Linked DNA regions of Homo sapiens: region 2 is linked to region 1. The links come from fine-mapping of genetic effects on gene expression. A gene starts in region 1. The other region holds a variant in brackets. All regions are shown on one strand. Distances are from middle to middle. Region 1 holds the start of HOXD-AS2 (HOXD cluster antisense RNA 2). Region 2 overlaps LOC105373760 (a long non-coding RNA gene).

Evidence for each region. PIP is the estimated chance that this variant, and not a neighbour inherited with it, causes the effect. A credible set is the group of variants that fine-mapping cannot tell apart.
Region 2: its variant is the best candidate, but not a certain one, in a credible set for the expression of HOXD-AS2 in visceral fat (GTEx, PIP 0.65).

The regions. Positions count from the first base shown.
Region 1 is chr2:176,134,498-176,138,890 of GRCh38, reverse strand. HOXD-AS2 (HOXD cluster antisense RNA 2) reads left to right here and starts at 1,793. Exons shown (of 3, transcript NR_038435.1): 1 at 1,793-2,270; 2 at 3,469-3,572; 3 at 3,941-4,050. LOC401021 (a long non-coding RNA gene) reads right to left here and starts at 2,279. Exons shown (of 2, transcript NR_148241.1): 1 at 1,892-2,279.
Region 2 is chr2:177,122,747-177,127,139 of GRCh38, reverse strand. All of the region lies in intron 1 of LOC105373760 (a long non-coding RNA gene), which reads left to right. Among named protein-coding and RNA genes, the nearest start is that of MIR4444-1, 88 kb to the left of the region's middle. The variant A/T (reference allele first, on the strand shown) is at 2,454.

The sequences.
Region 1 (4,393 bases):
GGTTAACAGAAACAATGGGGTTATTTCCGGTAGTGGCAACAGCACGAACTAGTTTTCTTGTGGACTAATGGCCCGAGAGTTCCTGTGATTTGTGGATTATTTCCCTTAGATGCAATCGACCATTTCGTTCCAATAAGAATTAATGCTACCACGGGGCTTACAAAGAACCCCTCAAGTCTTCCAAATCTGCCCATGACATCAACCTCTGCTGCGTAATCGGACCTGCACCCAACCCAGGTTTTTAGTCACTCAAGCGCGCTGTGCTACAGAACCAGGGAAAAGCACTGAAGCTCTGAACATAGAGCTTGGCCATCAGGGCCACACCCCCACACCCACCCGGGTACCATCCGACCTAGGGACTCTTCCTGCTCCGAATCTACCTGGCAGGGCCTAGAAGCCACTATCCAGGTGCCTGCTTTTCAATGGGGAATGTTTTTTACCCCGATCAAAGAATGACCTCAAAGGTCATTGTACTGTAGTAGAGAAATAATTACAAAATACAAACACTCCAAATAAAATAACAATCACTCAAGTTTCTTATTTGTAAGTGATCAGAGTTAGTGATCCAGGATAATTTGCAGGCATCAGCTGGCCACAAATCGTGGACCTCCATTTTGAAATGAGCATGATTCCATCATTAATTACGAAAAACACCTTTCCACAAAGATGACATGTTTTGTTCAGAAACTCTTTTATGGCCCACGTTGTTACATTGGAATTTTAAGGGAATAATAAGTTAGGATTTACCACTGGGTGCTTTGGGAACCATACCCTTGCCTTGCGCAGGCAGTCTCATGCGCAATGCGGCAGACTGTCCAAAGGTTTCATTTCACAATGTTCATGAGGGAATAGGCAATAGGATTTGCGAACTGCATCCGCAAGTGCCATTCAAAATCAGTGGGAGAAAATAGCTTTTTTTCTTCTGCAAAGGATTTTCTTTTATGCATATTGTTTCAGTTCAGCAGTTTTGAAGTTGAGGGAAGAATGTTGCAATGTAATATTTATTAGCAGGTGGGAAAAAAAACACAACCCATCAATACATTTAGAGAGCAAAAAGATCTACTCTTTTCCTACTCTGGCAAATAAGAAACACACGATGTTTCAACACAGAGATGTCTTGTATTTCTCAAAGATCTATTGGGTTTTTACCAAGACCTGCACCATATATTCTGATACCATTACCTCCCAAAACATGGATTCATTTTGTGATATAAAAGAATCCAAATTCACCTGACGGATTATCATATGCGGGAAGAGCCTATCTTGAGTTGCTTAAAAATTTCTCTAAGAACTAGAGAAACATTTAAAAATATTTAAAATTCCATCTCATACAACACAAGGCCCAATAAACCATCAACCCTAGAAATTAACCAGCATCAGTCACTAAAGCCTAGATTCAAACACCAAGCACATCCTAGAAACAGAGAATTCACCCCACCCCCACCCAAGCCCCAACCCTCAAAAAACACCTGTTAGCCTCCCAGGAACCTCTGGCCACGGCCACAGGTAAACCACAAAAACCACAGCTCTATATAAAATGCCTTTAGTGACCCCCAGCAAAGTGGAGATGTTCAGTAGTAACCCGTCTATACACTTTCCTAGGGTAGGATTGAGGGGCTCTCCATCTAGGCAGTGGGATCCTGTCTGTGGCTACCCGTATCTCAGAATTTTTGAAATAATACTGCCCCCTTAGACTTCTGAACCCAGCCGGACTCCACCCCAGGCCCCAGGGGACGCCCTAGGAACGAAGTGATTGGGGGAAGGGGCTTAGACAGCGACCCCCCACTTCCCCGGGAAATGTAGGGGAGCAGCCGGACTGAGCTGCCCAAGGGGGTCGGCGCCCCAGGCTTCTTGGTGGCATGCTGGGGAGCGGGGAGGGGGCGATTCTTACCCGAAGGCTGCCGAGCTACAGGCGGCGGTCGGTCCGGGCGTCTGCTGTAATCCACTAGGCGCTGCCCGGCTGCGCTCACTCTCGGACGCAGAGACCCGCTCATGTTGGTGAAGAAGCCGCGCCAGAACCGCGCGGCTGCAGTCACCTCGAGCAGGCCGGCTGCTCCTGGCAGGCGGTGTCGGCGCCGGCGGGGGACTCGGCGCCCAGGGCCCCTTCCAGGCCCTCCCTCGCCGGGCTCCCCACCAGCTCCGGAGGTGGCGGCGATGCGGACCGAGTGAGCGGCGGTGGGGCCAGGCCGGGCGCCGGGCGGGAGCCGAGGCCGCGGCGGACTCCGCAATCCCGCAGCCGGTGACTGGAGCCCACCTCTGCAGAGACAAAGGTTAGAAAAAGAGGGGGTGAGGCTCTGGGAAAGCAGAATGCGGGGGGAAATTCGCCGGGGAAATCAGGAAAAAGGCCGTGAAGGCGAGCGGCGCCTGCACATGACCAGCCGCAGCCAATGACGACCGCAAATAGGTCATAAAAAGGTCTATTACCAAGTTGTAAATTTTCTTCAAACAAAAAGGAATTTACTGCAATTCCTTGCGGATTTTGCACATACAGCTCGCAAGCGCCATGTTTTTTCCTCTTCTGCTTTCTCTCTCCCCCGCCTCCTCTCTTCCTTCTCCTCCTCCTCTCTCTCTCCATTCTCTCTCTCCTTCCTCCCTTCTCTTTCTCTGTCCCTCTTCACCTTTCCCTTTTTCTTCCCTTCGTGGTTCTTCCCTCCCTCCCCGCCTCCTCTGTTTCTTTTTCTAGGATTTATTTGTGTGTGTGCGTGTGTGTGTGTGTGTGTGTGTGTGTGTGTGTGTGTGTTCTTTTCTTTGGTTTGGCTCAAAACCTCTGCGCAGTTGGCCATCGTGAAGGAGGGAAATGAACTCAATGTACTGCTCACGCTCTGGGGAAGCGATCCCCACAGCTACCTCCTCCCATCTCTCACCCTGTGCTAGTCACTTGGCTTCTCCTCCTCTCCCCTCAGGAAAAGGCCTGTCCCCAGAGGCAGCCAACCACTTTCGGTTTCCCCTCCTCCCTCTCATCTTGCAAGCCAGCCCCAGTTACCTTGGGAAGAAAACGAGGGATCTGCAGGCCAAGAAAATGTGCCCCCAACACACCACTCCAACATAAATTGGGGTCCCTCCCATTCCCGGGAGGTTCTGCAGTAGGATAATCACCAACCAGCTTAAAGGCTTCAAATGGTTTTAGGTACTTGTCAACCTCTCCGAAATACCCGTTTGAAACTCTACCACCTGGTCTTTCTCCACAGAAACATCTTTCTGGACAGACAGGGTTATGGTTTCTGGATCCCTTCTGAAACTCCTTGCTCTACGTCCTCCTCTAAGAGCAATTCTCATTTTTATGGAGTTTAATTCTAGTTCTCCCCTCTCCCCTTGCCCCCAAATATTTCCCAATTGAAAAATTTGTTCAACGCAATACTGAAAAGACATTTGTTCAGGAAAAGAGTGACTTCCTCAGATCAGCCTAGAAAAAAGAATAATTCCTTTTCCTCAAAGGCCGGTGTCACATTCCCTTTATATTTTTCACAGGAACTGCTCTGGTGAACTCCCCCTGAAAGTAAATGTCCTTGGCTGGCCTCCAGCATTCCCCTCATGGGCATAGCCATGCAGCCTTCAGAACCTTCCTGAAAGAGGTAACACCACCCCCCATCCTTTTAAAGACAGTGTCTTTACACTTCCAGTACTATGTTACAAATGTTTGCATCAGATACCTGTGTATAAGTTCTCTGCTATTAACATCTGCACACCCAGTAAGTGCCTAAGTGGATGTGGACTGAAGCAGGAAGCAGCACAGCACCCTCTGGAGCAGGCCATTTGTTATCCCTTGAAAAAGTTCTGATGACCTTGGATGTTTTTGATTAAAGGACTTTTGCTGCCATCTGTCAGCAAAAGTCATATTCTTTCTAGAAAAAAGCCAATGGGCCCTAACTTTGCTGGAGGGAACCGCAGCAGCAGCCAGGGCCCATTAAAATGTTCTCTCTCCTCCCATGTCCATCCCTAGATGCCCAAGGATTCAGCAAACACGGGGGAAGCAGAGGACACAAGAAGCTTGGATGTGAAATAGCACTTCCTTCTGTGTTACAGAATAAAACAATATTTTAAATTACACAAGCAGATGGGGCAAGTTTTTGGGCCCTCAGAAGCCCAGAAGACTTCACACTAGTATACTGGTATATACATGTGGAATTGAGCAAATAACTTGTTTAATTCCAAAATTTTCTGAGAAATAATCTCAATAGTCAATTTGCCTCATTATCCTCTCCCCATCTTACCCAAATAAAAGCAGAGCTTTATGACCCTCCCTTTCAACTTGGGGAATGAGGGCCGCAAAGACACTTTGCACTGAAAAGCAGCCATATTTGCATTTTTCTCCCCTTGTGCAGAGGTAAGCGATATATTGGGCTTTGTGGAACCTCACAAAATGGCATCCTTGAACTGACTTCTCTGAAAACCA
Region 2 (4,393 bases), 990 kb before region 1:
ATAGTCAGTCTCTTCAGCTTCACCCATGTGTGTTGGAAATAGAAGGGTGTGCTCTTCAGACATGAAGAAGAAAAAAATGACTTCATTACTATTGGTTATTATTCTTTTTATATTCTAATATATGTAGGATTGTTGCCAATAAGATTTTTATTTAAGATTGGTAGCAAGACCGGTCTTCATCAATATTAAAACAATTATTTTAAAGCTTTGAAATTAAGTTAAAGGCTATTACTTAAAGCAGCATGAATACGAATTCCAAGTAACAATCAGTATGATGATTGCCTTACTAAAATAACTTCAATTGAATCAATGTGCCCATGTGGAACACCTAGGGATTACAGGAGCAACTTCCATATAGAAGTTACCTCAGTGAGCTGGTTTCAAGCATGAGCCAGCAATGCAAATGCAGGCATATCACTTAAAAAAAAAAAAGAGATGAGGTCTGTCTCTCTCGCCTAGGCTGTAGCACAGTGGCAAAATCACGGCTCACTGCAGCCTAGAACTTGTGGGCTTAAGGGTTCCTCCTGCCTCAGCCTCCCAAGTAGCTGGGACCACAGGTGTGTGCCACCACACCTGGCTAATTAATTTTTTTTTTTTTTTTTTTTTTACAAACAGGGTCTCACCATCTTGCTCAGGCTGGTCTTGAACTCTTGGCCTCAGGTGATCCTCCCACCTTGGCCTCCCAAAGTGCTGGGATTACAGGCATGAGCCACTGTGCCAATGTGCCTGGCCCATTCGAAATACAAGATATATGCATTGTTTTGGTTTTTTAAAATTGCTTTCAAAATCTCTCACACACTACCACTTCTTTCCCCACTGTAGTCAGGAAGGAGGCAAGATTTGGGGAAGAGAAAGGATGGAATCCACTCAGGCTAGTTTTGGTGGAAGTAAAACAGTTTTCTAAGGAAAAAAGGGAACTACACTGTTTCTTTCTTTCCTCCTCCTTGGCTAACGTGTCAAGTGGTTAGGGGACCGTTATTCCCCTCCTTAGCTGGCCCTCTGGAGACTAGCGCTGTCCAATAGACCTTCCTATCCCTGCAATAATGAATATGGTAGCCACTAGGCACAGACGGCTATTGAGTACTGGAAGTGTGGCTACTGCAACTGAGGAACTAAACTCTAATTTTATTGAATTTACTAACTTTAAGTAGCCATGTGAATTCAGGTGATAGGAGAGAGGGAGGTTGTTCTTATTCCTGTTTTCGGTGTAGATTTTTCTGTACATCACAATGATTTTATCTTCCACACAAGATGTTGAAGATGAGCTGAGTCAGTGGGGGATCGGGTGGGAGTGAAGCGTGGACCGAGGCAGAGCCTGCTGCAATGCCTCCCTTCCTAGCCAGTGCAGACCAGGCTCCCTTCATGATCACTGGCGGACAGGACCAAGTGATGCCCAAAGACGGCACAGACACTAAAATGGGGACGATTACATGAATCTCAGACCTGATTTTGTTTTAAAGCCTATGACTTAGGATATGAGAAAAGAAGAAAGAGGCAAATAAACCTAGTGTGGTAACCTTTTAACATAGCATTAGCATCCATTTTTTCATAATATATTTGGATATAAAATCTTTATTGTGCTCAAAATTCTTATTAAAAATGCAGTGAACTGTAGTTTGTACATTTGCAGCCTCTCATTCCTCAAATTGTTCTTTTGTAAGAAATAATTTCTTTGATGGTCATTGTTTAATGAAAGACATGGGCAGTTATAAAAGAAAACTAATGTCATCAAACATTCATCTGGTGACTCCTATGTGCTGGTGCTATGCTAACAATGAATGGCACTTTGCAACACTAATTTTTAGCAAAATAACGACTTCTTAGCTGTAAAGTCCCCATGGGTGTGTGTCCTAGAGGCATATATTCTTTTCTATCTTTGTCTACGGTTCATTTTGGAAAACACCTACTTTTATTACACGATTGTAAAAATTAGTGCTCATATTAAACAATTTAATGAACCGAAGTGCCTCAGTCCTTTCGAAGCCTGACTGGCCTCCTCTAGATCTTTGGGCAGAGGTCAATGTAGAGTGATTTGCTGAAATGCTTGGATTTTATTCTTGAGATTTAACATGAAGGCAAGTGAGTGAAGTGAGGTAGGAAAGCACGTATGATTTCAAGATAATCTGATTTTTTAAAAGATAGAACATTTCACTTTCTGAATTAAAATTATCATCTTAAATAACCTTATCTCAAAGGAAGTCCTATTCCAAACATAATATCTAACAACATCAAATTTTTTTCTACCAGTACATACGTATAAACAGGAAAACTATTTTTTAGCGGAAAGTTAATTGTTGATACCACCATATTTGTACTCAAATGCAAGACCATTTCTAGTTCCACCCTCCCCACCGTACATTCCAGAGCCCACCTTTATTTTACCCTGACATTGTACCAGCATAAAATTCCAATATGCTAATTACTTCTCCAGATCATGCCATAGTTCTGATGCC[A/T]TAAGACAAATATTAAAGGTTTACTTTTTATGTTCAGAATAATTGGGTAATTGTCGTCATCCTGTGACAGGTTTCCCTTTTTCCTGAGGTCTTTTGACTAATGGTTCTATTGTTATTGTTGGAGTGGCTCATGCCCCATTGTGTCATGACGCAAAACTTGATCTGTGGTAGAAATGCCTTACACATTTATTCCCTCCAGGAAACCAAAGGGCAAGAAAGTAACATTCCAGATTGAGAACCTGGCTTTTTGCACCATGACCTAACCTGTTCCAGGTGAAAAATATTAGGCCAAAAATAGTTTCATGAGAAAATTTTTACGTGAGTTCCTGCAGTGGTTCTCAGTACTAGCTGCTTGTTAATTAGTTAGTTAATTGATGGGCAGCTTAAAGCAATCACTATGTGGGCCCCACCTGAAACTTGTTAAAAAAGACTGATTTCTGGGGGCCCCATTATATGCTGTTGAAATTTAGACTCTCCACAGGAGGGTCCTGGGTATCTGTACTTTAAACAAAACTCTCAGATTATCAAATAAATTTGGTCAACTTGATTTAAGGTATTGATCTTGGGAAAGAGCACTTCATACTTTTTTTGAAATAAACTTAGTGGCCTTCAAGACATATTTCTAATGCCAGTATCTTACTTGTCTTCTTTTACTTATTTGCATATGAATACTATTAAAGAAGGAATATTTAACCATAGAGAAGGTTTGTTTACATTTTTGTCTTCAGCCAAATCAAGCCTTTCATAATTTTATGTATTAAAAATAAAATTTAGATCAGACTCCCATCTCTACAAAAAATGCAAAAATTATTGTAGCCAGGTGCGGTGGTATGTGCCTGTAGTCCCAGCTGCTTGGGTGGCTGAGGAAGGAAGATCGCTTGAGTCCAGGAGTTTGAGGCTGCAGTGAGCTATGATTGCATCACTGCATTGCAGGCTGGGCAACAGAGTGAGAACCTGTCTAAAATAAATTGCATTTTCAAGTTGTACTTTCAGCAGCACCAGATAGTATGCTGGAGCTCAGAGGCCAGGAGAGGAGCACTTTCCCTCTACTTATTATAAGAGGTAACTTAATACTGATGGAGGAGTGTCTTGGGTTCTTACACTTGGAGACCAATTTGTCATTCCATTCAACACAAAATAACAAGGGATTCACTAGTTCATACATTATTTCTATTCAACAAATGTCGTTTGACTGTCTACTGTATGCCATACTGTGTTAGGTATCAGGGATACAAAATAAAGTAAATTGGGATTTTTTTCTTGTTAGAACTGGTAGGTTAGAGCAGATATTCTTAAGGTGTGATCTCTATCCAGCAGCATTGGCATCCCTGGAAACTTGTTAGAATTGCATATTCTCTTGCCTTACCCCAGACCCACTAAATCTGATTCTCCATAAAGCTTGAGAACCACTGGCCTCTAGGAGGAGCGATCAGTTCAGCAGAAAATTAGAGTACCTTGTGGTAGATACAGTGGAGATGGGGAGGAGGCTAGGACTTTAGGAATGTTTCTGGGAGGAAGAGATGCTTGAGCTCTCTAAAATATTTGGTGCAGAGTGGGGGGAGGTGTTCCTAGAGAGGTCAGCAGGAGCCACACAAAAAGCCATGTTGCATTTTACTCTGAATGCAACATGGAATCTTTTGGACCCTATAGTCAGTTCATTTACAATTATCATCAATGTGATCTTTTGACCAGACTTTTAGCTAAGTGGTGCTGGTCTTGAGCTCTGTGTTTCAGGTGCTTCCTCAGATATGGGAAGTTAGAGAAATGCAGGTGTAAAAAATTCCTCTCGCATTAAAATCTAACACAGTAGTGTTAAATAAAGATTTGGTGAATAAACACAAATAAATGAAAGAGTGGATAAAGCTAGGATTTGGGGAAGGTAAGGAAAATGTGTAATGAAAACATAGCAGCATAAGCACTGGTTTTTGAGTGAATTGAAA